Homo sapiens: one gene and its partners. The protein of the gene in region 1 purifies or fractionates together with the protein of each later gene. This does not show direct contact. Each region holds a gene or a part of one and is shown in the gene's direction. Other genes may lie near its edges. The genes, in order: PCDHGC3, ERICH5, GNAZ, DLK1, GNAQ, VSIG4 and UBTD2.

What was found.
Region 2: the proteins of PCDHGC3 (region 1) and ERICH5 purify together in Homo sapiens (affinity purification with mass spectrometry; one large-scale study listed by BioGRID and IntAct). This does not show direct contact.
Region 3: the proteins of PCDHGC3 (region 1) and GNAZ purify together in Homo sapiens (affinity purification with mass spectrometry; 2 studies listed by BioGRID and IntAct, with this or other methods). This does not show direct contact.
Region 4: the proteins of PCDHGC3 (region 1) and DLK1 purify together in Homo sapiens (co-immunoprecipitation; one large-scale study listed by IntAct). This does not show direct contact.
Region 5: the proteins of PCDHGC3 (region 1) and GNAQ purify together in Homo sapiens (affinity purification with mass spectrometry; one large-scale study listed by BioGRID and IntAct). This does not show direct contact.
Region 6: the proteins of PCDHGC3 (region 1) and VSIG4 purify together in Homo sapiens (co-immunoprecipitation; one large-scale study listed by IntAct). This does not show direct contact.
Region 7: the proteins of PCDHGC3 (region 1) and UBTD2 purify together in Homo sapiens (affinity purification with mass spectrometry; one large-scale study listed by BioGRID and IntAct). This does not show direct contact.

What each region holds. Positions count from the first base shown.
Region 1 is NC_000005.10:141,499,526-141,503,940, forward strand, and holds part of PCDHGC3 (protocadherin gamma-C3 isoform 1 precursor), read left to right. Parts: intron 1-4,415. UniProt on the Homo sapiens protein: Potential calcium-dependent cell-adhesion protein. May be involved in the establishment and maintenance of specific neuronal connections in the brain.
Region 2 is NC_000008.11:98,088,223-98,091,908, forward strand, and holds part of ERICH5 (glutamate-rich protein 5), read left to right. Parts: intron 1-853; coding exon 854-1,807; intron 1,808-3,686.
Region 3 is NC_000022.11:23,098,019-23,101,518, forward strand, and holds part of GNAZ (guanine nucleotide-binding protein G(z) subunit alpha), read left to right. Parts: intron 1-593; coding exon of another isoform or gene 594-794; exon of another isoform or gene 795-3,500. UniProt on the Homo sapiens protein: Guanine nucleotide-binding proteins (G proteins) are involved as modulators or transducers in various transmembrane signaling systems.
Region 4 is NC_000014.9:100,733,027-100,737,441, forward strand, and holds part of DLK1 (protein delta homolog 1 isoform 1 preproprotein), read left to right. Parts: intron 1-1,122; coding exon 1,123-1,870; 3' UTR 1,871-4,415. UniProt on the Homo sapiens protein: May have a role in neuroendocrine differentiation.
Region 5 is NC_000009.12:77,790,217-77,794,631, reverse strand, and holds part of GNAQ (guanine nucleotide-binding protein G(q) subunit alpha), read left to right. Parts: intron 1-39; coding exon 40-169; intron 170-4,415.
Region 6 is NC_000023.11:66,026,179-66,030,593, reverse strand, and holds part of VSIG4 (V-set and immunoglobulin domain-containing protein 4 isoform 1 precursor), read left to right. Parts: intron 1-2,481; coding exon 2,482-2,544; intron 2,545-3,067; coding exon 3,068-3,145; intron 3,146-4,415. UniProt on the Homo sapiens protein: Phagocytic receptor, strong negative regulator of T-cell proliferation and IL2 production. Potent inhibitor of the alternative complement pathway convertases.
Region 7 is NC_000005.10:172,273,234-172,277,648, reverse strand, and holds part of UBTD2 (ubiquitin domain-containing protein 2), read left to right. Parts: intron 1-4,415.

The sequences.
Region 1 (4,415 bases):
GAGAATGGTGTCATGAACCTGTATGATACCACTATCCAGCTTCAACTAATGCCTTATCTTGTTTCACCTATATCCCTACCCTTATCCTGTCCTTGGATTCTTTTGAAGCAAATCTCAGACATCATATAATTTCATCTTGGTCTCCACCATCTTTAACAGATGACTTTTTTTTTTTTTTTTTTTTTTGGAGACAGAGTCTCACTCTCTTGCCCAGGCTGTGGCACAATCTCAGCTCACTGCAGCCTTCGCCTCCCGGGTTCAAGCAATTCTCATGCTTCAGCCTCCTAAGTAGCTAGGATTACAGGTGTGCACCACCACACACAGCTAATATTTTGTATTTTCAGTACAAACAGGGTTTCGCCATGTTGGCCAGGCTGGTCTTGAACTCCTGGCCTCAAGTGATCCACCCTCCTCGGCCTCCCAAAATGTTGGGATTACAGGTGTGAGCCACCTTGCCCGGCCAGATGATTCTTTCATAAGGTCCACATTTTATATTTGAGTGAGTGTCTCTTAAGTATCTTAATGCTCTTTTAATGTAAAAGACTTCCCCTCCATCTTCCATTTTTGCAATTTATTTGTTGAATCCCTGCCTTTTCATATATATCTTTCTAAACTTTTCTTTGTGTAATCAAAGAACATGCATGAGCTTCATTTTTATTTTTATTTATTTATTTATTTATTTATTTATTTATTTATTTATTGATACGTAGCCTTGCTCTGTCACCCAGGCTGGACTGCAGTGGCGCAATCTCGGCTCACTGCAAGCTCCGCCTCCCAGGTTCACGCCATGCTCCTGCCTCAGCCTCCAGAATAGCTGGGACTACAGGCGCCCACTACCACGCCCGGCTAATTATTTTGTATTTTTAGTAGAGACGGGGTTTCACCGTGTTAGCCAGGATGGTCTCGATCTCCTGACCTCGTGATCCGCCCGCCTCGGCCTCCCAAAGTGCTGGGATTACAGGCGTGAGCCACCGCGCCTGGCCGAGCTTCATTTTAAAAAAATCTCATTCACCTAAATAAGTTGTTCACAAACTTGTCACACTTTCATGTGACACTTTATTCACATATTAAGAACTGTTATTCCCAGTCATACGGTACATTTCCTACTAGTTTTTTAAAAATAGCAACTGAGGCCATACTGTCCAACAGAATTATAGCTTTTTTCTTCTTTGCAGTGTATCATGAGAATTTCCCCATGTCTTTCAAAATTCTTCCCAAGTCATTTGCAGAGTAACTCCTCTTATGAATATACATATTATTTTACAGAATAAGTCCTCATATGAATATACATATTATTTTTCTAATGCTAATGGGCTTTTGCTACATTAGAAAACATACACATTCATTTACAATTTTTTTTTTTTGAGACAGTCTCGCTCTGTCTCCAGGCTGGGGTGCAGTGGCGCCATCTCGGCTCACTGCAAGCTCCACCTCCTGGGTTCAAGCAATTCTCCTGCCTCAGCCTCCTGAGTAGCTGGGACTACAGGCACGCGCCACCACGCCCAGCTAATTTTTGTATTTTTAGTAGAGACGGGGTTTCACCATGTTGACCAGGATGGTCTCAATCTCTTGACCTCGTGATCCGCCTGCCTCAGCCTCCCTAAGTGCTGGGATTACAGGTGGGAGCCACCATCCCCAGCCTCATTTACATTTTAACACAATTAAATTCAGGGTGTTGTCAGGGTGACTTCCTAGATTTCTCAGTTTTTTGAGCATGATGTAGGGAGTATTTTATTATAGTCCAGTCTATGGGATATTCCCTTATACACACACACACACACACACACACACACACACACACACACACACCCCAAACTCAATAGGGCAAGAACCATATTCATCATCTCTTAAATCCTAGGTCCTGTCACAGGCCACTGCTTGGAAAATAGTTGACTAAATGTAGTCCATTTCTTCCATTTTTACTTTTCACTATTCCCCAAATCCTGGAAGAGTCCCTCATATCTGCTGCTGGGGCTCCAAGGCCTCCAAGCTGAAGCCCAGTACGTTGTTGTGCATAAGATCATAGGCCCTGGAATCATATTAGGCTGGCTTTCAGGTTGCAACTCTACCAGTTCCAGCTGTGTGACTCTGGTATAGTCTCTCAACCTCTCTGAGCCCTGTTTTCATCTGTTGGAAAATATAGATAATCACAACACTTATCTGCAGGGTGATTCCGAGGATAAAAAAGACAAATATATTACCCAGTCAGCTTAGAATAGGAAGCTCTCAGTAAATGGTTAAAAAAGAGGTCTCTCTCCCTCTGCTCATCTCTTACCCAGCTTCACATAATTGGCAGCCCACCCACCTGTTTGGCCCTCAACCTTCAACCATTTCCCAGGACGCCTCCTTACACTCCTGATCATCATGGTTCCAACCCCACTGTTCCACTCAGCTTTGTTCCCTCAACACCACTGCTCCCTGTGACAGGTCATCCTCCTAACCTCTGGCATCTGGTCCCGTTGTCTCCCTGACAACCCGCATGCTCTCCTCCCTGCAACCCCCGCCGCTTGCCTGCTCTCCCTACTTTATTCCCATTAGCCCCCTTCACCTGGGGCTGAGAACACCTGGCCTTGACCCTGCACCCTCAGCCAGGCCCACAGAGCTCAGTCGGGCCGGAAGTAAGGACCCCAGATATTCAGTTGAGGAATTTAACATTAATACAATAATATAGAATCCACCAGCAGATTTTCATAAATGTTCTGTGTGTTCTTTTATCCTTTTTTTTAATCCAGGATTTTATCAAGGAGCATAGATTGCATTTGGTTGTCACGTCTTTCCTCTCCTTTAATCTGGAGCCAGCTCCCAGTCTTTTTATTTTTTTAATGACATGGATATTTTTAAAGAGTCCAGGCCAGTTGTACTTTAAAATGTCCCCGAACCTGGATTTGCTGGCTATTCTCTGATGGTTAGATTCAGATTACACACCTTGGTAGGAATACTTCCCGCAGCATCACACTGGGACTCATCTAACGTCGGCCTGTCCCACTATCAGTGATGCCGAGTTTGTTCGTGTGGTAAAAACAGTGTCCCAGATCTCTCCATTATAAAAATATATTTTTATAAAGATATTTTAAAATATTTGTGAAAATATAAGTAATCTGTGGATGATACTTTGAGATAGGCAGCAACCCTTCATGCAATTTTAGTATTCCCTGATGATCCTTGCCTGTATCTGTTTTTACATCAGTGATTACAAAGCGGTGATGTTCTGTCATTCCTTCTACATGTATTTGCTGGTATTCTTCTGAAAATTACCTGGATGATTTCTTCAGATTTAAATTCACTGTCTTTTCCTTGGGGAAGCCTGGACTGGCTGAGCTGCCTAACCCTGACTCTCTGTCTTTTTTTTTTTTTTGACAGGGAGTCTAGCTCTGTTGCCAGGCTGGAGTGCAGTGGCAACCTTCACCTCCTGGGTTCAAGCGATTCTCCTGCCTCAGCCTCCCAAGTAGCTGGGATTACAGGCGTGTGCCACCATGCCCGGTTAATTTTTTTTTTTTAATATCTATTTTAGTTGAGACAGGGTTTCACCATGTTGGTCAGAATGGTCTCGATCTCCTGACCTCGTGGTCTGCCCGCCCCTGCCTCTCTTCATACCCTCTGGTAGCCCCTGACACAGCCCATGGCAAGTATCACAATTGCAATTACTCTATTGTGTAATTATTTAAAATCAGCCTCTCAGTGCCCACCATGAGCACCGTAAAGATGGACAGTTTCTATCATACTCACAGCCACAACCCCAGCACCTGGCTCTGTGTCTGGTACATAGAAATTGCTCAAGAAAGAATTGTTGGAGGGGCGCGGTGGCTCACGCCTGTAATTCCAGCACTTTGGGAAGCGGAGGCAGGTGGATCATGAGGTCAGGAGTTCGAAACCAACCTGGCCAATATGGTGAAACCCCATCTCTACTAAAAATACAAAAATTCGCTGGGCATGGTGGCATGTGTGCACTTGTCGTCCCAGCTGCTCAAGAGGCTGAGGCAGGAGAATCACTTGAACCTGGGAGGCAGAGGTTGCAGTGAGCCGAGATCGCGCCACTGTACTCCAGCCTGGGTGACAGAGCGAGACTCCAGCTCAAAAAAAAAAAAAAAAGAAAAAAGAAAAGAAATAATTATTGAATCAATGGAAACAGAATTACAACTCTTCCCACTTTTGGGAAGGAGAATTGAGATTCCTGCTTTCCCCTTCAACCCTAGCTTTATGTTTGTTGTGATGGTATAGAGGTCACACATGGCAGCCTTGTGTCTGTTCTTAGGCTGAGTTCATCTACTTAGGGACGGGGAATCCCAGATTGGGCAAAACCAAAAGCAGGGACAGACCTTGGAAAAATTGTAAAGCAGTTCTTGGTTGTGCTCACCCACCATGACAAAATATGCACACACACAACGCAACACACACACAGACATTTTCATGCCTTC
Region 2 (3,686 bases), on another chromosome or scaffold:
AGTATTAACATATTGCCAATCTTAAACATATTGCTTATCTTAAACTATCCAACTCACTTTTGCATCTTTTAAACTATCACGCCTCATGCAACTCTGAGATCAATATGAAGGAGAGAAGAGAGATTCACTGCTGTTTTAGAGACAAGATCATTGGGAGCTAAGTTTCCAAGCTCATACAGTTGGAACAATGGCCAGAAGTAAAATGCATGTTTCTCTGCTTTCTGTTGATTTCTTTTCCCACTGTGCCCCCCAAATGACATGAAACTCAGGCTGAACTGTCTCTGCTACTTCCCTTCCCAGACATCTTAGCCTTTACCTATTAGGGCTTCTCTGCCACAGTCCTTTTTCCATTTGCTGGGGGCTTTCCTGTGTTAGAAGGAAAGTAAGACCTCTCTAGCAGCCCAAGGACCTCGCATCATGAAACCTTCTAAGTTTGGGAATCTTCTATTGCCCTCCCCGCCAAAACAAAAATGGAAAAAAAATTTTTTAAAAAGGAAACCTTCTAAGTCTCAAGAGGAGAAAGTGTGAGACAAGGAAAAGAAGAGAGAAACAGAGTAAGCTCAGTTAGAATCTGGGACAGGAGCCATGAAAAGATGCACAAGGAGCAAACAGGAGAAAACTGTGGTTTTGGAGGACTTCAGCGCTTAAGATTAAATGTTTGAGCTGAAGACAATAAAGGGATTTGACTGGGAGAGTGTTAGGGTCATGGTATGGCCTTTCTGTACTCAGATATATTTGGAACTGTCTTGAACTGTTAAATCTACTTTGTGATGTCAATTCACTTTTCAAGATAAAACTAAACAATAATTTGTGTTTTCTCTTTTCTTTTTCTTTTTCAAATGAATAACCAAAGTAACTTCAAATGAGCATTTTTCAACTGCAGAAGAAAGTGAGTCCTGCTTTGCCCAACCAAAGCCACATGCACTGGGAAGAGAATCTACTGTTGATGGCAATGTACAAAGGGAAAGCCGTCCTCCCTTACAAAAGCTCAAGGTTTCAGCAGAGCCTACAGCTAATGGTGTTAAACCCCTCCAAGAACAGCCCCTGGCCAAGGACGTAGCCCCTGGAAGGGATGCCACAGACCAATCAGGGTCCACAGAAAAGACTCAGCCTGGAGAGGGACTGGAGGAATCTGGGCCGCCTCAACCAGGTGGCAAAGAGGATGCCCCAGCAGCAGAAGGAAAGAAGAAAGATGCAGGAGCAGGGACAGAGGCCGAGTCTCTAAAAGGAAATGCTGAAGCTCAGCCTTTAGGACCAGAAGCCAAGGGTCAGCCTTTGCAGGCAGCAGTAGAGAAGGACTCTCTCAGAGCAGTGGAGGTCACTGAGAATCCACAAACTGCTGCAGAGATGAAGCCTCTAGGAACAACTGAGAACGTTCTGACTCTGCAAATAGCTGGAGAGCTACAACCTCAGGGCACAGTGGGAAAGGATGAGCAGGCCCCGCTTCTAGAAACAATTTCCAAAGAGAATGAATCTCCAGAAATATTGGAAGGAAGTCAGTTTGTGGAAACAGCTGAAGAGCAGCAACTTCAGGCAACATTGGGAAAAGAGGAGCAGCCCCAGCTTCTAGAAAGAATTCCCAAAGAGAATGTAACACCAGAAGTATTGGACAGAAGTCAGCTTGTGGAAAAGCCTGTTATGAATGATCCATTCCATAAAACTCCTGAAGGTCCAGGAAACATGGAGCAGATTCAACCTGAAGGAATAGTTGGAAGCATGGAGCATCCAGCACGAAATGTAGAGGCAGGAGCATATGTGGAAATGATCAGGAACATCCATACTAATGAAGAGGACCAACGCATTGAAGGTAAAAGTTATGCTGGCAAACCTGGATGTTTAGATGTGCTCCATAGGAGACCAGCTCTGGGGAGTGGGATGGGGTGACTGACACACAGTCCCTGAAGTCACTTTCAGGTGGTTGAAGTTCGTTTGACCAAACCAAAAAGGCTTCTGTGCCTGGGAAAGAGGCATTCTATTAATGCTCAGTTTGTCAGCAAAACTTTTCCGAAACATCATCTCTGTCCAAAATTTTAACCTAGTGTTTAAATAGTGTCTAACATTGAAGGCAACATGTGAAACTTTCTGAATTTTTCCAAGTTGACACTTCATCAGGCCCCATGTATGAAATCAGGATCCAAAGTAAAGGTGAATAGATGATTACTGGAGGAATTCACCTTCCAATGAAATGATATATACATAATGGATCTTAGAATGTTATTTTCATCTTTGTGAAGCTTATCTTAGAAAATGACTGTCAGGACAGGGTGCAGTGGCTCACACCTGTAATCCCAGCACTTCAGGAGGCAGAGGTGGGAGGATAGCTTGAGCCCAGCAGTTCATGACCTGCCTGGGCAACATAGTGAGACCTTGTTCTCCAGAAAAAAAAAAAAAAAGAAAGAAAAAAGGAAAAAGAAAATGACTGTCAGTCTGCTCTTGTTCTTCTGCAGTTTTAAAATCTGTATGAGAAGACCAGAGAAAATGTACTATGTCTTAGCATATGGTGTTTTAAAATTTTAACTGTATTTTACCAGCATAAAACAAATGATGTTTACAGTGTTCTTTATTGGTGTTATAATTTAAAAAAATATTTTCTTCTGGGGTATGATTTACATTTTGGTAAATTTTAGCTTCACAGTTCAGTATACTTAAGTGAAGCATTCATTATAATCATCCATCTGTTTTTGTTTAATTCTTTCATTTATTTATTTTATTTAATTAATTTATTTATTTTTTGAGATGGAGTCTTGCTCTGTTGCCCAGGCTGGAGTGCAGTGAAGTGATCTCGGCTCACTGCAACCTCCACCTTCTGCGTTCAAGCGATTCTCCCGCCTCAGCCTCCTGAGTAGCTGGGACTACAGGCGCACACCACCATGCCCGGCTAGTTTTTGTATTTTTAGTAGAGACGGGGTTTCACCACATTGGCCAGGCTGGTCTCCAGCTCCTGACCTCATGATCCACCCGCCTCGGCCTCCCAAAGTGCCGGGATTACAGGCATGAGCCACCATGTCTGGCCAATTCTTTCATTTATTAACTCAGCATTTTTTGGCATGCCTAAACATATGCTAGGTGCTGAGATGCAGACTGAGGAAGAGATAGTCTCTGTCCTCAAGGGGCTCACTGTCTAGTGTGGGAAGGCAGGATGTGCGTGCATCACCATAGTCTGTTGTGGGAACTGCTTTCCTAAGAATGTGTAAGAAGGGCCCTGGGAACAACTTGGGAGAGGCAAATAAAAGCAGGTAGTTTTTACATCAGGATTGGCAAACTCAAAAGTCTTTAGGCCTAGGATACTGAAAATGAGTGAGGTGAAGGACACATGTCATACTGTGGGAGCCCAGGGGACCTTGGCAAACAGGAGAGCACAGCCTTGTCAAAAGAGGAAGCTCCGCACAGCTCCAGCCATGGAACTAGGGCCAATGTTGCCAAAGCCAACTTCTCAGGGAAACAGGGTTTCCTGCAAGTGTGTGCAATGTCCAGACTTGTTAGTGTTGGCTGTCTGTAAATGTTTAACGATTGTTTTTAAACACATAATGGCCAAGCCAGACAGGTTTAGGGGCACCCCTGGACCACCCTTTGATTTAGATACAAATTAGACTTTCTTTTTCTTTCTTTTTCTTTTTCTTTCTTTCTTTCTTTCTTTCTTTCTTTCTTTCTTTCTTTCTTTCTTTCTTTCTTTCTTTCCTTTCTTT
Region 3 (3,500 bases), on another chromosome or scaffold:
GGCTTTGGCTGTCATGTTTGCTTTCTGAACTTGTCAGTGAGGAGATGACCCAGGTGTCTTCACAGATGGGCCCAAGGCTAGGCCTTTGCCTGCCTGCAGCCCTCTTGGCTCTTACTGGCCTGTGCCTGCCACCTTGCTGCCTCTCTCTCCTCTCCTTCTGCTCTAGCCGTGGTCAGCTTGTTTTGCTCCAGCAGTACTGCTCTGTCCAGCCTTAAGCTTGTAATGATCCTGATCCCTGCCTCTCGTACCCCTGCCCTTATCCTCCAGGTCTCATCCCAAGTGGCGCCTCCTGGGAGGCCTTTTCTGACCTAGCCCGGCACCTGCTTACTCCTCCATCTAGTGATGTGTGAGTGAGCTCCTCGGGGCAGGCCCTAGATGGGCTGGGTGGCCCCTGTGGGGCCTCACATCTCTAGCTTTCCCTCTCCCAGGCCTGTCCCTGGGGAGAGCCATGGTGGGCAGCCATGGGCAGGGACAGCAGCCACTGGCCTGGTCTCAGGGATCCCTGTGAGGTTCCAGGCATTCAAGGCACTTTCTAAAGGGAGGGGCTGGCAGCCAGGCTGGCACACCCACCACCATCACCCTGGTTTCTGCAGGCCTGGGGAAGTGGTTGTTCACCAGAAAAGGAAATTCTTGATGAGAAACCCAAGCGAGGCTGGAAATTCACTGGATTCCAAATGATTCTGACCTTTCATGCTCTACCAGTAATATCTGGAGATGGAAAACAAACAGGCTGCAGAGGAAAGACAATCCCCTCCCGCGATTCCTCCCGCAGGCTGGGCTGGCCCCGGAGGTGAGCTGGCCCCCAGAGTGGTGCCGGCAGTGAGGACAGCCCGTCTCCAGCCGGGCCAGGGCCAGAGCCAGTGCTGGCACGGGCTGGCACAGGGCTGCCACTCTGCTCTCTCCTTTTGGAACGTGCTGAACTGTCCTCCCTGGGCCCTGTCAAAGGCAAGGCAGCCAAGAACAGGCCATGCTCGTTTTCACAAAAGCCGAATGAACCTTGGGGCCCAGTGCCAGGGCTCTGGACACGGCTCCTCCATAGCCCTCCTTCCGTGCTCAGCTTCCAAGGCCTCATCTTCCCTGATGCTGGCAGTGCCTCCCCACCCCCACGCCTGGCGAAGGAGCCACAGCCCCCCGGCCCACCCGCTGGCTTCTGCGTCAGCACGTTGCCAAGGAGAACGTCAGTGTCTCTGGGCTCCCGGGTGTGAGGGCTGCAGTGAGTGCAGGGCAGCACCTCAGAGCAGGGAAGGCAGATTTCCGGGTGTCTGTGGAGCATGGCAGCGAGCCACATGGGGAGCCACGCCCCTCCATGGCCACGGTTCCCACCCTCGTCCGAAGGAATTGGCAGTCCCTTGCCCTGACTAGGGCCAAGTCCTGCAGGTGTGTCAGGCACCCCAGTGCCCCCAAGCCCAACACCCAGCTGGGGCTTCCTCAGGCAGCACAGGAGGCCTGAACACAGCCCAGCAACACAAGGGGGTTTTTCTGGCGCACCTGTCCCCTGAATGATCCTGTGGGGCAGCAGCGCCTGTTATTTTTGTCACAGATCGAGGCACTGAGGCTCAGGCACACAGCTGGCGCTGGCGGGCCCCCAGCCCTCAAGTCCACAAGGACAGCTCCTGAGAGGCCATGTGTCACAGGACCCACCACGGGCCTCCCACTTAGCCAGAGCCATGGCAGAGGCTCTGCCCCTCGTCTTTAGTACATTCACACAAGGGTCAGTCAGCAAAGACAGTCACTCTGCTGCCCTAGGAGGGAAAGGCAAAGTGGAGAAGCTGGCACCTACCAGCCCACACTGAGGGACAGACACAGGTGGCTGTGACCAGCAGAGCCTGGGTCTTCACTCGGCCCCACTGGAGGCACCTGAGGGGGTAGGTGGGCACTTGTTGCCCAACCTCTGCCCTTGCGGATCAGCTAATGGACTCTGCTGGCCACCAAATGGTGTGGGATCCTTCAGAAGGCAAGATTAAAAGGTCTAGTTGTAAAGCATCAAATGTTCTCATGTGGAAACCCACAGGGAGCTCACTGCCCATTTCCCGACGGAGCTGTCAGCATTCCCAGCCCTGTGGCGGGTCTGTTTTGCACCTGTGATGGACCTGCTGTGCAGGCTCAAGGCTCAGGCTGGGGCCAAGTATGAGGGTGAGCACAACTCTCCCAGCAGCACAGGGAACTGGGGGACAAGGAGGAGGCAGTCACACCAGCCCAGCTACAGCTTCATTTCCACAAAGCCTCTGCTACCAGGGATACCTGCCCTGTCTTTCTAGAGCTGGCAGGCAGCAGTTCCCAGCAGTGTCCCCATTGTGCTTTCATCTAGGACCCACAGTAGTCACTTGGGCCCCACAGGCAGGCTGGGTCACAGCAGGGTTCACCGTGGGAGGCCTGGTGTCTCTGCCACTTATCTGAGAGACAGCTGGTCAACATGTTATCAGTGAGGGTATCCAGGGGACGGGGGACATAAGAACATGCCTTTTGTGGGGCAAGTTCTGCAGGTGGCAAGTGCTTGAGCAGCCAGCCTCCAGGCAGGTGGTCTATGCCTGGCCCTGGATAGTGGTCCCTTGTCCTGGGGCCATTGGCTTCCTGAGGAACCCCTCCCCACTCCAGGGCAGGTCAGCAGCCTCAGCACACCACGAGGGCAGGTCCACACCCACCCGGCACAGCCTGTGCTCTGAGCAGAGGGCCTGGCACACAGTGGGTGCTCTGCAGACTTTGTGGAGCGGGCGGGAGGCGGTAGGCTTGGGAAGAGCTGGAGCTCCAGAGCCCTGGCTTCTGGGTGCAGAGCAGCTGGGACACTCAGCCCTTCCCAAGGAGACCCTATGGGTGCTCGTCCATAACAGGAGTGTATGCAGTACCCTGAGGAGGGGCTGCCCAAGGCCGTCCTGTGAACACAGCGTGTTCCTGCCACCCTAGCGCTGTGGTTTATCATTTAGCCCAAAAAGGGTGCTTGTTTTAGTGCTTTTAAAATGGAGTTTAAACATTTGTGCCATAAAATGGCGTGTTGTGGGTGAAACAAGGTGTTTCCAGTAAGACAGGCTTATACCTATTGATGACAGAGCTGGTTATATTTGCCCAAGGAGGGAATTACAAATGGGCAATAGCCAGACACAGATGATACCCTCTCCCCAGCATACCAGGGCTTAGATTGAGAAGGGACCTTATATATCCTTTAGTGTTCCTAACCAGCCGGCTTTGCAGATGAGGAAACTGAGCCTCAGAGAGGTTCCTTCACATACCGCAGGGCTGAGACTCTGGCTCTCAGGGAGGGTCCTGGCACTGGCCCCTGGGAATTCCAGTGGCCCCCCTCTTCACCATACTGGTCCCACATCCTGTGGGTGCTGGGGTTCTCCAGCAAGGGCCTTGGGGGTATAGACTGGGTTCCACCCTTGGAGCTGCTGTGTAGCCAGCCTTCCCTCAGGAGAGTGGAGGACAGTGACACCTGGGCTTGGGAGAGGTGAGTGGCTGTGAAGGTTGACACTCCCCTCGTCCCCTTGTCTCCTGGCCTAGTCAGT
Region 4 (4,415 bases), on another chromosome or scaffold:
ACAGAGACCCCAGTAGTCTGTAAGAGCTGTAAACAGACATTAACGGGGCTTCCAAAGATCAGTCTTCAGACGGGGTCAGAGTGGGGGCTGGTGAAGACTGAACTCCATTTCTGCTTATTAGCAGGAAGGAGAAAAACAGAGCGAGACCTTTAAAATATTTTGCTTTTCTCGCGAATGGACTTAAACCAGTGTGTCAAAATAGAGCCTAAGGCCCTTGAAATTCCTTCAGAGCCCAGCTCCCATGCAGCCCACACCCTGAAGCAGCAGTGCTGATTTCTTGTGTTTACTGCCCCTTCTTCCCCGGAGTTTTGCCATTTATCGGATGACAAAGGGCTCGCTCGTTTAAAAGCACTTACATTAAATGCTCCTTGTACTCCACTTTGAGCAAACAGCTTTGGTTTGCAAGCTGCACTTGGGTGAATGGACCACTATTAAACAGCCTGGTACAGACGCTGGCTTGTGCCACCGTAGACAGACCTCGTATTGCTTTCTCTTTGAGAGTCCCCAAGCGCTTCCTGCACAATAGCCTGTGGATCCACACCGCTAATAATAATAATAATAATAATGAGGGTTGGCGGCAACAGTGGACATAGGCATGAAGGACGACAGCGGGTCCCGGGATAGAGTGAGGGGCGCCCCTTGCTTGGTTCTTCTGCCCCAGCAGTCCAGGGATGGAGCTAAGGGAAGGGGGCTTGCTCCAGTCCTGGGCTGTCACTGACTTTTCCTCTCCTAGCCTCAGTTTCCCCAGTTGGCTAGTGACTAACCGGTTGGAGACTAACCTCTGGTTGGAGAGGTGCAGTAAGAGGTGGGAGAGGACGTGGGCATCCTGGCATGGGAGGTCGGGTGTGTCCCAGGTTAGCATCGAGATGGGGGTGAGGTGGGCACCCACCCACCCACCCCCAGAGCTACTGGTGAGCTTCTCGCAGACAGGGGTCACGGCCCCGGGCACCTCTCTGTGCCTCCCTGGCTGGCGTTCCCTCCCTCGCTCCCTCATTCACCTGATGTGTTTTAAGCACCTGCCCCTTAGTCAGGCCAGGGACCTTCTGCCCTGAGCCCCGTGCCCTGCAGCGCTGTTGTAGCCTAGCCCCTGAGGCCGTTTACTATGTCCCTGTTGTGTTGCAGCTCCCCCTGCCAGCACGGAGGCACCTGCGTGGATGATGAGGGCCGGGCCTCCCATGCCTCCTGCCTGTGCCCCCCTGGCTTCTCAGGCAATTTCTGCGAGATCGTGGCCAACAGCTGCACCCCCAACCCATGCGAGAACGACGGCGTCTGCACTGACATTGGGGGCGACTTCCGCTGCCGGTGCCCAGCCGGCTTCATCGACAAGACCTGCAGCCGCCCGGTGACCAACTGCGCCAGCAGCCCGTGCCAGAACGGGGGCACCTGCCTGCAGCACACCCAGGTGAGCTACGAGTGTCTGTGCAAGCCCGAGTTCACAGGTCTCACCTGTGTCAAGAAGCGCGCGCTGAGCCCCCAGCAGGTCACCCGTCTGCCCAGCGGCTATGGGCTGGCCTACCGCCTGACCCCTGGGGTGCACGAGCTGCCGGTGCAGCAGCCGGAGCACCGCATCCTGAAGGTGTCCATGAAAGAGCTCAACAAGAAAACCCCTCTCCTCACCGAGGGCCAGGCCATCTGCTTCACCATCCTGGGCGTGCTCACCAGCCTGGTGGTGCTGGGCACTGTGGGTATCGTCTTCCTCAACAAGTGCGAGACCTGGGTGTCCAACCTGCGCTACAACCACATGCTGCGGAAGAAGAAGAACCTGCTGCTTCAGTACAACAGCGGGGAGGACCTGGCCGTCAACATCATCTTCCCCGAGAAGATCGACATGACCACCTTCAGCAAGGAGGCCGGCGACGAGGAGATCTAAGCAGCGTTCCCACAGCCCCCTCTAGATTCTTGGAGTTCCGCAGAGCTTACTATACGCGGTCTGTCCTAATCTTTGTGGTGTTCGCTATCTCTTGTGTCAAATCTGGTGAACGCTACGCTTACATATATTGTCTTTGTGCTGCTGTGTGACAAACGCAATGCAAAAACAATCCTCTTTCTCTCTCTTAATGCATGATACAGAATAATAATAAGAATTTCATCTTTAAATGAGTAAGAGAAATAAGTATGTTATTCTAAAATCTAAACTCAAATGAAATTTCAAAAAAGACCAAAAAAAAACAAGGCAACAGAACCAGGGCTCAGTGCCGACGCCCCTACCCTGGGGGTCTCGGCCACATGGTCCTCGTGAAACCGTTACGAGTGCTGTACATGACCACCCACTGTGCAAAGAGCTACGATTGCTTTCGTTCGTTAATTCTCACACACCACATCCGACTCGCACTCACATCCAGCTCAACATCGCTACCTTTAGATCTTTCCGATTGATTTGAGATTTAGCGGAGTGCAGCGGCTGTGTGTCAGTCAGAGAGAGCCCCAGGTTGGCTGCTGGGGGGCCGGGCCTCTGTGCCAGCCCTGCCACTAACTCGCTGTGTGATCCTTGGCGAGTCCCTATCCCAATCCTGGGCCCACTTTCTCGCCCCTCTCGAGGGAGGGGTTTGAACACCGACCACCATGGTCCTCTCTGGCTCTAAAACTCTGAATTAGGAACGAGGGGGTATGAACCAAAACACTTCCTGACCCCAACAATTGGGATCTGATGAAGACGAATTCTCATCCTGGGATCCGAAAGGTTTTGGCCTATCCTGGATGAACGCTTGATGTTGAAATTTATCCTAACTGTGTTTCTCAAAGTGGGGAGCCTCCTGGCCCACTTCCCTTTTGGGAAAAAATAGCCCCTTTGAGTCATAATGTGCCATCTGGAGTTGCCACTTAGGCAGCCAGCCCTCCCCCACCCCTCTTTGCCCACCCAGAACCCCAACACTATACCTGCCTCTACCCTATAGAGACATCCCTTGAGACTTGAATGTACTTTGAGCCGCAAGTGCCCCTGGCAGAATCTGAGCAGCAACACAGCCCTCACCAAGGTTTTCACAGGGATTAGTGGAAATTGTCACTTGTGGGGCGCTTACTAGTTTTGTGGCAAATGTGGTCCAAGACCTGGCCCACACAGCCATGGGTTTACATTTGTGTTGCTGAGTTAATAATCCTCAGATCTCAAAAGACCTAGCCAGCTTCTGAATTTTGAATTTGACTTTTTTTTTTTTTTTAACAAAGAGCATCTATCTTTTTTGCAAAAATAGAAAGAAATGGGACAGAGCTCTGTTTAGCTTTTCAGCTTTTGGGGTTGGACAGCTAAACAGCCCTTGGGTACCAGATAGGAATATTTTGCTTCTTAGATTATTTGGATAAGAATCTATACTCTTAGCTTTATTGAGCATTGCCTGCCGTGTTTACCTTGCTCCAGGTGTTTATTTCTAAGTCATCATCACCTTCGTCATCTACAGTCAGTCACATCAGTCACCCACACACAACTCACAGTCACCCATCCATTGGTCACCTGCGCCATCGTCATGACACAATATCGACCTCATCACCTCATCGTCCTCCAGCCACTACCCAAGCCCCCTCATCCTGACTCAAAGCCCGACCAGCATCTGCCCAAACTCCCAACACCCCACTCTCCCCACCAAGCCATTGGTCTCCTCACTCCCGGTCCTTTGTCATCCTGATTCCAAGCCCCGCCCCACCCTCACCGCCTCCTCCGCATCATCTGCACTCTGCAGAGCCCCTCCTACCCGCCTCTGTCCCCACCAGGCCCCTCCCTACCGTCAGCCCTGAGTCCCACAGCACGCGTCCCCAGCCCCTCCCAGCCTCACCCCAAAAACCCTGTCACCCCACCGACCACCATCATCACTGGCAAGCCCCTTCCCCTTCTCCAGCTCCCGTCCCCACTACCCCTCCCGTCCCCCAATCCTTCCCCTCCTGTTAGCCCACCCCTCCTTTCCTATCACCCCCACCTTTCCCTTCCCATTCTCCCCACCCTTCCCCTCCGATCCCACCACCCTTCCCTTCCGATCCCCGTCATCCTTCCCCTCTGATCCCCCACCCTTCCCCTCCTGTCCTCCCCAGCCCTCCCTTCCTATCACCCTCACCCTTCCCCTCCCGTTCTCCCCACCCTTCCCCTCCTGTCTCCACCAGCCCTCCCTTCCTATCACCCCCACCCTTCTCCTCCCTTCCCTCACCCCAAACCCCTGGGTCCTCCACCCCAATCTCTGACAACCGCCCCAAGTCCCTCTTCCTTCCCCACGAAGTCATTCATAAGTCACCATCTCATCTCATTTTGAGTTTGTTTTAAGAAATAAAAAAATTAAAAAGACAAAAAAAAGAATTGTTGGCATGTGTCAGGCGGGCGTCTGGTACCCTGCCTGGCCTCTCTCAGCGTGAGACCTGGACTGAGCCTGCTAACGATTCTGTTCCTCAGTTTCCCCAAATAGAAAATTCTAAGATTGGTCAGATGATCAAAT
Region 5 (4,415 bases), on another chromosome or scaffold:
CTTTATATGTTATTAATATGAGTATTGTTAACCTTGCAGAATGGTCGATGTAGGGGGCCAAAGGTCAGAGAGAAGAAAATGGATACACTGCTTTGAAAATGTCACCTCTATCATGTTTCTAGTAGCGCTTAGTGAATATGATCAAGTTCTCGTGGAGTCAGACAATGAGGTAAGTGTTCTTTAGACAGGCAATGGATTATCATTTTATTATCTGATACAAGTAAATGATAGAAAGTAGGGTGTGGGGAATGGAGTGAACTTACTTCTTTGCTTTCTTGAAATTTGATTTTAGGACTTTTAAAATAACCAAAAATAATCCTGTGGTAAGCTCTTCTGTCAGATGTGTGAGCAGGTCTTTGTGTTCAAATCTAATTAGAGCCTATTTGATACTTTTTAACACTATGCAGAGGTTCTGAAAATGAAAATAACATGGAAATCCTAGGCTAATCATCAGATCATTTTATAGTCTTCCTCCTACAGGATAGAACTGGGAGTGTTGGAGTGAGTCATCCTGTTTTGTTTTGTTTTCATTTTGTTTAAATCATTGTTTGTGTGATGGGTGTGTCCCAAAGAGTACTCAAAATCTCTCTTGGCAAATGTGAATGACTTCGCAGCTGGGCTCTAAATCAGTTCATTATGAACCATGGAATATCTTGGTGATGCGGCCTTTCTGCTCTTATAGAATTCTCTAGGCTGTTGCATAATTTTGTCTCTATTAAGCAGTGAGCAGTTGAAGAAGTATCCTTAATATGCCTGTCTGGAGAACAATTTCAGTATTGTTATCTCCTCCCTGTTACAGGGAAACTTAATAGGTGTAAATGTGGATTTTCAGGATGGTAAAGACCTGACGATGAATCGATTATGGAATATATTAAGGGATGTAGAAATCTGTACTTCTGAGCTGTAGTTGTGTGCATGTGTATGTGTGTGTTGGGGGAACGGGGAAGACACCATTGATATCCTGTTAGAGGCAGAGATTGCAGTGTGGTAGGTTAATAATAAATATTAAATATCCCAATAATAGGGTAGCAAAAAAGAAGGAAGTGAGAGATCCCCGTTTGCTGACTAAAATAGGATCTAGCATATTATGCTTTTAATACAGTACATTTTTTAGGTACACAAGAATTCCTGACTGGTTCTTTTAAATATTTTTCTGCCAGTATTAATATCTCCATTAAAATACATATCCAAGCTCCTATAGTATTTCTTTTATGTATAGGATTGATAAAGTTTCCGTGAACCAATGTCTATATAGAACCGAGAGTCACCTGTTCATGCATTTCGGAATCATTCCTGAGTTACAAGTATATTGGCTTTGGAGTTAACCAAATAACTTCTGTTTAAGAATGAGGCTTGTTTATCAATCAGTTGCCCCCAATAACTCTAAAGCAAAGTGCCTAAAAGCATGCTACAATATATGACAGTAAGTTACCAAGATACAAGGCAGTTACTGTCAGAATTTTAGCTATGATATCTTTATCTGTATATCTTTATGTCTGTGCTTGTTTGTTACATAATCCCTGGATGTAGTATTTTAAACATACTGCATATTTTGGGAGCAGATCTATTCTAACACTTCTGATTTTTTTGAATGTTGTGTCAAGACAAAAAAATATTTTGAGGGCTTCCCTACTATATGCTGGGTACCAGAGTATCTAAAAAGACACAAAAATGGGGAAAAAAATCAACTCTGCCCTAGAAGACCTTATAAACAAGATATGCTTTTGGTCAGAATAAGCCATAGGGGGAAAGGTAAGCCTTTGTTATGTAGGTTGTCATTTCTCTTCTTTAATTTGCCATCCAGTAAAATAAAATTTGCATTTATCAATTACACAAGAGATGTAAGAAGCAAATGTGAATTTATTTCTGATGTTTACATTATAGCTAGAGGAGGACAAGTGTTTATCAATACACATTTTCCACAAGATAAATGCATTATATATATATGAAGAAGTATATGTCATGATGTAATACTTATCAATTTACCACTTCAAAATTATCAAAATAGAAAAGAAAGTAGAATCCTTTGGCAACTCATCAGCTAATTCAGTTCAACCGAATTGAATCTGGTTCTTCAGTTATCTGAACATTACAGATCATTTATTCCATTTTTCCTCAGACATAGCTAATAGTGACTAGATTTTTATATAAAAGTATATTATGTTAATTAGAATAAAATGGCATCGTTTTTATTATCATGTGTCATAATTAAAGTTCCCACAGTAACTTGACATTCAATGTACAGGTACTAAGAACGTCTAAAAATATTGTCCCAGTTCCTTTGATTCCTGTGGTGATGTCTTATGCTACTTTTAAATAATTACAAATTAAAATAATAAAGCTATCATTTTTTCATTAGGACTCCCTAATCACTTGTGAATCTTTTGAAAGTCTAGGTAATTCTATAAGATGAAAGTCAACTTGTACGGTGTTCCTTTCTGAGACCTCTAGTCAAGCCTGATGATAGTATGGGATCATGAGAAAAGTGCTGTTCATTAATTCCTTCATCCATATTAGCCACAGCTATCACTGTCTGTAATTAGGAAGTACTGTCAAAAAAATATTTTTTAATGTTGGGATGTAGTCTCATTACCCCTTTTTTTCCCCAGTTGTACTAATGTATGATAATGTCATTGCCTCTCAGCTTCCTTAATCATTAAGAAAATTCAGAACTACAGAATTCTAGTTTCCCCAGATTTTTTGGTTTTGGTGAGACAAAACTGAAATAAACTCCAGAAACATTTTGTTCTTGGTTTAGAAGTCTGATGTTCATAACTTTAATCCAAAGCAGACTTTGTTGTGCCTCCCTCCCTTGGTATATATTTGTGAGAAAAACCTAGGAATGGATTCTGACAGCTTTTCTTTCTATCCCAGGAAACTGTGGAAAATGCATTGCAGACCACAGACAAAAGCAGCTAAGGGAAGCATTTTAGATTATTGCTTTTGCTTTTTAATATTTCTAAAACCTTATAAATCTTCATAATTTTATGTAGGTCTGCTTTTGTCTGCCTAGATTCTCAGCCTTTCTATTGTTTGGGGAATGAATTTCTTTTTTCCTTCAAAGAAGGAAATACATTATCAAATAGTGGCTAGAATACCCAGGGTGGTAGAGCTGTGTTGATTTGCGTATTCCCTTTACTGTCTTATTGATGTGTGTATTCCCTTTGCTGTCTTATTTTCCCTGTGATAACACACCAGCATGGAATCCACTATTCTGCTGTAATCCTTTCATGGGTATGTTATTTCAGTGCTCCTGAAAGCCCAAAGCACACAATAAGACATGCTTATAACATATTTTAGTTTATCAGTGTGTATCCAAACACTGCCTTTTAATCTTTATTTTTCTGATTTTCTGTTTCATGAATATCTGAGCACTACTACAAAGATGTTTTCTCAGACATTGTCTCAATGACTGTCTTCCAGGCTAAGCTCTTTATAGAATCTCAAAGACTGAGACCTTTTTCTCCTCCATGTCCTCTTTGAATGTGAGCTTTGAATTTATTAATCATCTTGAAATGGTCATGAGGAATTATGTTATCATTTTATTAAAACGTCAAGATAGTTCTCCCTACCCTAGGCCCTCCTTGATCAAGGTGGATTCCCTGACCTTGGTTTCCATAAACATGTATTCATCCTTCAAACCTGATTTTTGAAGTTGCTCAATTGATAAAAGGAAAGCATAGACGTTTATAATACCTTAGCACTTTATACCCAAAACTTGCTGAAGCTGCTACTCATCAGAATCTACCAGCTGACCTCACCGTGGCGGGGACAGATCAGGTTTGCTGGTGTGCGTCATAACGATGAGGTTACAGGAATGAAGAGATGAAGGCCTGTGGCCAAGGTCACTGAAGGCCAGGTCCCCTGCCCTTCCAGACCAGCTTTCTTTCCCTTCCCTCATAGTGTCTTCTAGATGTTAGAGACAAACTTAAAGAAAAAGCAAGAGGAGCTATAAGGCAGCAAAGAGGGTGGAAGTAGAATGAAAATCCTGCCCTTTCATGAAGGAGTTGAAATAACTCTCCTCTACCTCTAAGCTCTTCTTACACCAATTGGTAGTAGTAGACCAGCCAGAGATCCTTTACCAGTCATTTAGAGTTCCTGTATTGCTCATTTGATTTTGAACTATCTTTAAACAATTAGTCTAAAATATGCATTTCCTTTGGATCCGTCTCTTCTGGTAGGTTTTAAAATGAAGCCATTTTGAAGTTACTCAGCTGCAATCAAAATTTGAACATTTTCTTTAAAAGTGTGAAACATGTACTTTGTTCTGCTCTAAAAATTGTTGAGTGAGCTTTTGGGAATTTTCTTCAGATAACATTCAGCTTTGCGGGGAAAACCTGACTAAAAATTGAGGAGAAAAAAACTCAAATCGCAAAGGAAAGACCTAAAGAACATTTATAAGTAGTTAAAAGTAA
Region 6 (4,415 bases), on another chromosome or scaffold:
TGCCTTGATATTTCCCTATCCATTTCCTCTTGGCTCAGAGTAAGGTATGCTTTGCTCCTCTCCACAACAAGCCCCTCCTCCTGAACTCTTAACATCAGCTACTCCAATGCCCTGCAATACCCTTTATCCTCTACCTAAGCCAAATAGATATGCATGTATAATATATGTATATATGTCAGTATGCAAGCCTAATACATACATATATATATGTTATTTTTCAAAAATCTTTCTCTCCATCTGCCACCTCATCTCTCCTATGTTCACTACCAACCTTCTCACGAAGGTAGCTTCCACCAGCTGAACCTCTCAATTCATTCACCACAACATAACTTTGTAATTTGGGGTCATCATTAACCTCCATATCACCAAATCCCAAGACCTCTCCATTCATACTTTTCCTCCTCAACATCTGTGTAGCAGTGGATCCTGTTGGCCATTTCTTCCACCTCAATATTCTTTTAATCACTGCTATTGATGACACCAACTTATCTTGGTTCTTCTAAGACCTTCCTGAATGATCCTTCTGAGACACCTTTGTTGGCTCTTTTTTCATTCACTCCTTAATTGTAAATGTTCTCAAAGACTCAATTCTTATTCATCTCTGCATGTATTTCTATATTATCAGGAGATTTTATTTACTTCTGTGGCTTCAAATATCACCTGTAGTCTGATGACTCTCCAACCATAATATTATCTGTATTTATTTTTTCCTGACTGCTAGATCCCAGTGTCTAGTTACCTTCTGGACAGCTTCATTTCTAATTTCAGCGTGTTCAAAACTGATCGTACCTTTTACTCACCAAACCTGTTCCTCAAACCTGTTAGAAAACATAGCAGTACCTTTGACTCCTCCTTCTCTTTTACCTCGCATCGTCAAATAATCATCAATATTACCAAGTGCTGTGAATTCACCTACTGAATCAGATACCTTATTAGGCTCTTTCTTTCTCTTCCTATACCCTCATGGTCTCATATTCTTTTTTAAAAAACAATTTCAATCATCTTCTAAATGTTCTCCCCATGTTCATACATTCTTACGAAGTCATCAACTTATTCAATATTTATTGAGTATATATTTTATGTCACTAGATTATAAAATTCAAGAGTGCAGAATTCTACCTGTCTACTTCATTGCTGTTTTTCAGAGCCCAGCAAAGTATCTGGCACAAAGAAGACACTAGACACTAGATGAATACTGTATTTGTTAATGAATGGGGAAAATATGCTATTGCCTTACCTTTGAAAATCCTACCACACTGTTGTCAGAATTATTTCCAAAAAAAATAGACTGAACAATTTTTGCTTCCTTTCTCAAAAGGAAGTAAACCTTTCTCAAAAGGTGTAACCTTCTGTTACACCCCATGGATCTTTCCAACTAAAGAACAAAGCCCAAACCCTTTTAGTCTGTTTTCAGCCTACCTATCCAGACTTATCTACTAATATGTTTCGCCACATCTAAAACGGAGCATGCTGTTTCCTCTGCTAGCAAGAGGGAGAAGCTTATGGTTTTCTCATGTCTTTTCTGAGCAGGTACATGGCCCTGTGCTTGTGTGTGGCCTCCTAGTTTCCCAGAACTGTGTCAGAACTCTTCAAAATCCCTATGGAAATCTTATTCCTCAACCATTTTTAAGGCTATTTTGGTTAGTTTTTTTTGTTTTCTCGCCTATTATCCATTGCCTCAGGCAGCTGTGTGACAAATGCTACCCCATCCCTGGGGAGAGGCTCTTAGCACTGGGTGACCAATAAAACAAGTCTTTTGAGTCAGGTCTTTCAGGGAACCACCAGACAGGCCAAATAATGGCAATTATTCAAAAATGAAGTTTGTTGGGCTCACTCCAGCACCTGGAATGGGGTTGTATGTTCAAGATTACCTCTGAGGTAGAAGGGGTAAGGGGACTAGGAGAAGTTAAAACAGCACAAAGCTTGCTGTTCTTACCAAAACTGGGATATTTTTCTTCCATAAATCCTGTCTAAGGTGCTGCAAACCTTTGGCTATTTTGCAAAATTCTAAAAAAAAAAAAAAAAAAAAAAAAAAGTTGATTACGTCAAATTTTGCATTATTTCACTGATGTTGTTAAAGGGTAAATTTCTGGAGGTTATTATGTCACCATTTTCACTGATGTCACCCATTGCCACTTTCTTTATGATACTTCCCAAGTTTCTCTCAAGAGAATTAATTACTAGGTCTCAGTTAGAAGTTAGTAAAAATAAAATATATTTTCCCATCCAAGTTGACTGACTCTCTGAACTCTAGCTACAGGTTCCTTCGAGATCTATTAATCCTGGGTTAAAAACTCTGTCCTTGATTGATGTATGAAAGATGAACAAGCAACACAGGACTTACCAGCATCATGACAGAAGTGTTGAGGCAGGTCCAAGTATGGACCTGAATGGCCTTTACTTACTTCCTATTTCCCTAGGGCATTAAACTATTCACCAAAGGGTACCAGGTCCCTTCAATCGGTTCCCTTTTCCTTGCAGACTCCTCAAAGCTACTCAAGACCAAGACTGAGGCACCTACAACCATGACATACCCCTTGAAAGGTGAGTTTTGCTAGAGTCTGAGGAAGTAGTAGAGGTTCAAAATGGTGTCATCGTAGCCAAGAAAGGAATCACAATGCCATGGAATGGCTAATAAACAGTCACTTGGTTCCTCAGAGAGAACATAGCAGTAAAGGAATGGAAACAAAAGAAAGGTAACAATGATGAATATATACTCTTTTTTTGTGAAAACTTCTGAGGCAAAAGGAAAGAGAGGGTTAGAATTACTCCCATTGGAAATACAAAAAACAAGAACACTAAATTCTATTCTGCTCCTAGTTTGACTTGCTGTGTGACTTTGGGTACATTACCTCCCCTCGATGGGAATTCTTCTCACTGCCCACACCTAACAGTAAGAAATGAAGATGCCTTATCTCATGGTACTAGTGGTTGATAACATGGTCAGGTACCCTGGAAAGTACAGCACAAATGGCCAGGGAAGGACTCCAACCTTTGCAACCATCTCCTATCTCTCAACTTTTTGAAAGAAGAGAGACATCTCTGACCCTATTCTCTATATTCATAGCAACATCTACAGTGAAGCAGTCCTGGGACTGGACCACTGACATGGATGGCTACCTTGGAGAGACCAGTGCTGGGCCAGGTAGGAATATTGTCAGGATTTCTATCTTTTCTTCTTGACTCTAAGCTTTGTGACCAAAACTTTCCCTTATGCACACTGTTCTACAGCATTGAAATCTGCAAATCATTACCTGCTATGTGCCAAGCAATGGTCAAGGGCACTGAGGATGGGTAAAGTGGGTAGGATGTAGAGAGAGAGATACAGATCCAGAGATGAGCAAAGTCAGAGTGAGGTTAAGGGGAGTGATAAATGTGCCCTTTATTTAGTTCTCTGTTGTCATAGTAATATGCTTTCCAAACATTCTGAGCAAGAATATGGATAGGGACATTATGACATCATGACCTCAACCAGGTAAGGATAATGGCTGAGTGTCATTGCTTGAGCTCTTAACCAGGGCTCTTCAAGCCGCTTGAAGCTGATTTCTGATTCCTCCAAAGCCTTGAAAATTCCCAAGTCAGGGTCTCAGAGATTCAAATCCCAAATAAATCTTTTGTGTTTCACCTGCATCTGATAGTCAGTTGGTATGCCTTCACATGACTACATTGACTGTTGAAATAATAGAACACTCTCACACCAATTGATAATTAGCTGCTCCCCTTAACCCCTGAGCCCTCCATTATTACCTGGGGCTGCCTTGTCCCATTCCTCAGAACTCTCTAGACCACCCCCATGGTCATGCAACAAAAGGTATACCAAGGAATCTCTAAGACTCCAAGTCTACAGTAGGCATCTGTTGTGACTGGTTGGAATTAAATAGTTTGATAACTATCACTCCTGGTACTCATTCTCTGCCTGTGTATAATTGAGAGAGTGGACTTCCAAATGCTCTTTGTAACTCTCCATTCCTGATTGCAGAGTTTTTTGGCTATCCCTTGGCAGCACTCAAACCTGTTTTATGTTCCACATTTGCATTGCCATCTTTGGCTTCAAGATTTCCATAGCTCCGTTCCTCTCCGAGAAGAACATCTACTGGGAGAAGAGAAGTTAGAAATTGCCTCATAGGGAGTTGGTTTGGAAAAATGAGAAAATAACCTTGGGCAAAGTTATTAGATGTTGGGTCTGCGCCCTATTTTCTCTACCAAGTTTTTTAGTACTTGACTCTCTTCAAAAGAGAATATTTCTTCGATTTGTACCAGCTTATAACTTGAGCTCTCTCAGTCCCAACAAGACACTCTGAGGACCACAAATACTGGATTCCTAGGACACGATATCTTAGAGTCTCATGAAAACAAGCCAGTTGCAGCAACAAATCCTAAGTACACTGAGGTTCCTTTCCTCACGCCTCTCTATC
Region 7 (4,415 bases), about 31 Mb from region 1:
CTGCAGCCTCTACCTCCGGGGCTTAGCCAATCTTCCTGGTTCAGCCTCCTGAGTAACTGGGACCACAGGTGTGCACCACCACAGCCAGCTAATTTTTAAATTTTTGTAGAGACGGGGTCTTTCTGTGTTGTTGAGGCTGGTCTCAAACTCCCGGGCTTAAGTGATCCTCCCTCCTTGACCTCCCAAAATGCTGGGATTACAGACGTGAGCCACCGTGCATCACCTAAAGTTTGTAATTTTAATGATGTCCGATTTATCTATTTTTTTCTTCTGTTGCTTGTGCTTCTAGTTTCAGTTTTAAATATAAAGTAACCTTTCACTGATGTATACAGAATAGATCTATAGCCAATAATTTGCAAATCTCACAGCTAACATTTGCTTTCTCAACAAGAAGTGGAAAACTTTTATTTCCTCTGTCTGATCTGATGAAAGGTTATTAGCAGTGAAATGGTTTATAGAAGTTGACAATTCAGTTAACAGGGTAGCTAAAAAAGAAAAAAAGTTGACAAAAGTAATTCATAAATGTACTTCGTCTTCTTTTTGTTCCCTTCTTTTTTTTTTTTTTTTTTTTTTTTTTTTTTGAGACAGAGTCTGCTTTGTCACCCAGGGTGGAGTACAGTGGCATGATCTCGGCTGACTGCAATCTCCGCCTCCCAGGTTGAAGCAATTCTCCTGCCTCAGCCTCCCGAATAGCTGGGATTACACGTGTGCACCTCCACACCGGCTAATTTTTGTATGTTTAGTAGAGACGGGGTTTCACTGTGTTGGCCAGACTGGTGTCGAAATCCTGACCTCAAGTGATCCCCTGCCTCAGACTCCCAAAGTGCTGGAATTACAGTTGTGAGCCACTGTGCCTGGCCATTTTGTTTCCTTTTTTTGTCTTCTTCCTTCCCTCCCTCCCTTCTCTCCCCCTTTCCCTTTCTTCCGTCTTTCCCTCCCTCCCTTTCTTTGTCTCTGCACCCCAATAATGAACCTTACAAATGAAACCATCTGTCCTAAGGAACATAATGCAACTGGCCCACATTACGGGGTCAGAAGGCGTGGGGGACTGATCTTCACCCCAGTTGATTCTCCAGCTCAGTTTGTAAACTGATAGTACATGAGTCACATCCAGTCAACAAACATGCTTTGTTTGGCCTGTATGATGTTTTTAAAAACATACCAGATAGAAGAATGGTTATGAAGTAAAGCTTGGAAGTGGTTGTAAACAATACATGCATGGGGTAATCGTTGGTAAAGTGGCTGCTTTGGCTTGAGCAGTGTGTGTGAGAGAAAATGATGGAGAAACTGGACAGGTATTGCGTAGGATGTTAGTGTGGACTCTTGAAGAGAAGAGCTTATCTGATGAAAAGAATGTACTGACTGCTAAATATCATTCACTAAATATTAGTTGAACCACTATTATGTACTAGTTACTGGGATTACAACAGGGAAAAAAAAATCTCTGCCCTCAAAGGAATTTACAGTCTAGTATTTTGCTGCTCAGAAAGTTTTGTCTCTGGAGCAGCAATATCGGCATCACCTTGGGAGCATGTTAGAAATTCAGAGCCTTAGACCTACAGAATCTGCATTTTCACAAGATTCTCAAGTGATTTCCTATGTACATTAATGTTTGAGAAGCATTGGTATAGGATTGCCTAAAGTGGGAAGAGACTAGGATGAGGAACCCATGAGGGAAAAAAATGGAATGAGTTGGTGATTTATTGGATGTAGGGGTACAGAAGAGAAAAGGAGAAGTAAAATAATACCATGTTTATGAACCCGAGTGACCAGGAATATTGAGGTAGCTTGGCAGGTTTTGTGGAATAAGAAAGATATCTGGGAAAAGCCCTGGTTTAGCATTCAGTATATGTTAAGGTGTAGGTGACAGAAGAATGTCTAAGTGGAGTCACCATGTAGTGTGGTACGGAAATTTAGATAGGGAACTCCTAGATGCTTAGGGCTATGATTGTGGATTTTGGGATCAGCTGGGGTGAGTTGACTGAAGGTGTAAAAGTGAGTGACTGCTAATAAGTAAGTGAAAGAGGAGGAAAATACTAAGAATTGAGTCATGAGAGTTTCATAAAGGGTGAAGCAATAAGAAAATCACCTCTAATCAGGCCTGACACATAGTAAGTAGGTACTTAGTATACTGAATTTTGTTGAATTGGGAAAGAGGGAAGCAGGTCTCTGCTTGTGAAACTAATCTGGTTGTATTTAGAACGGATCATTCTTGTAATTTCAGAAAATAATTTGGTTCAGTAACTTGGTTCTAGCTGTGGTGTGATACCGTTTGGCTGTGTTCCCACCCAAATCTCATCCTGAATTGTAGTTTTCATAATCTCCACGTGTCATGGGAGATACCCAGTGGGAGGTAATTGAATCATGGGGGCGGTTACCTCCATGCTGTTCTTGTGATAGTGAGTGAGTTCTCACAAGATTTGTGGTTTTATCAGGGGCTTTCCCCGCTTTTGCTCGGCACTTCTTCCTCCTGCCATGTGAACAAGGACGTGTTTGTTGCCCCTTCCACCGTGATTGTAAGTTTCCTGAGGCCTCCCCAGCCCTGCGGAACTGTGAGTCAATTAGACTTCTTTCCTTTATAAATTACCTAGTCTCAGGCAGTTCTTTGTTTTTGAGACGGAGTCTCGCTCTGTTGCACAGGCTGGAGTGCAGTGGCGCAATCTTGGCTCACGGCAAACTCCACCTGCTGGGTTCATGCCATTCTCCTGCCTCATCCTCCCAAGTAGCTGGGACTACAGGCGCCCGCCACCATGCCTGGCTAATTTTTTGTATTTTTAGTAGAGTTGGGGTTTCACCGTGTTAGGATGGTCTCAATCTCCTGACCTCATGATCCGCCCACCTCGGCCACCCAAAGTGCTGGGATTACAGGCATGAGCCACCGCGCCTGGCCTCAGGCAGTTCTTTATAGTAGCATGAGAACGGACTAATACATAGTGTTTGCAAAAATTCTAGCTGTAGTTTGTTACTCATATCCTAAAACAAGGTAGACTTCTTAGGTATACAATTCCAGAATATACCAGTAGCCCTTTTGAGGTTGGTGTGGTTCAGGACAAACACATTCTCTGTAAGACTTTCTTCACCAAGAATGTCCAGTGTACTTCTTTCTTATGTATTTTCAGTGTCCATTATGTTCTACACATCATCTAACTGGTTTATTGAATTTTCTTATGCTTCTATTCTTTGGTTTGTGCCAATAGTAAAGAGTAAAACAGCCAGGTGCAGTGGCTCACACCTGTAATCCCAGCACTTTGGGAGGCTGAGGCGGGCGGATCATGAGGTCAGGAGATCAAGACCATCCTGGCCAACATGGTGAAAGCCTGTCTCTGCTAAAAATACAAAAATTAGCTGGGCATGGTGGCACGTGCCTGTAGTCCTAGCTACTTGGGAGGCTGAGGCAGGAGAATCGCTTGAACCCGGGAGGTGGAGGTTGCAGTGAGCCGAGATTGTGCCACTGCACTCCAAGCCTGGCGACACAGCGAGGCTCCGTCTCAAAAAAAAAAAAAAAAAAAAAAAGTAAAGCAAAATTGAGCATGAGGAGGACTGAAGATTTAGTCTCCTTGTATCCCTAGTGTGACAGTGGAGGTGAAAATCCTTCATATTTTCTGGGTCGGTGAGCTCTGGGGCTTTATGAGAGAGGTGCCTAAAATTTCATACCACTTTGGCAAGAGACTTTTAGGACATTTACATGATACAAAGCAGAAGGCAGCAAATTTTACTAGGAGGAGTGGAGTTGTAGGGAGGGGACCAAAAAGAAAATGGGCAGCAAGAAGATATAGGTTGAAAATACAGTGGTACTCTGGGTTGGCAGGTATGAGAACCTAATATATAGGTCAAGGAAGCTACAGTCGGAAAATATTAGACATGAGGAGAGCTGAATCCTCTTTGGGAAAAGTTTTAGCACTAGAGTTTACATTAAAAATTGACATAGGCCATTGTAGCTGCTTCCTGATCATCTACCTTCCGTTGGGCTAGTCCCACTCCATTTTCAATTTTCTATCAATAAAGGATTGGAATTTATGTTGGAAAGCCTTTTTTTTTTTTTTTTTTTTTTTTTTTTTGAGACGGAGTCTCACTCTGTCGCCCAGGCTGGAGCGCAGTGGTACAATCTCGGCTCACTGCAACCTCTGCCTCCCAGGTTCAAGCGATTCTCCTGCCTCAGCCTCTGAAATAGCCGGGATTACAGGCGTGTGCCACCACACCTGGCTAATTTTTGTATTTTTAGTAGAGATGAGGTTTCACCACGTTGGCCAGGCTGGTTTTGAACTCCTAACCTCAGGTGATCCACCCGCCTTGGCTTCCCAAAGTGCTGGGATTACAGGTGTGAGCCACCATGCCCAGCCAGAAGGCATTTTTAAAAAGAATCTTGCAGTGGGCATTATTTGAGGATGTTTTCATCTCCAATTTAAATTTATTTA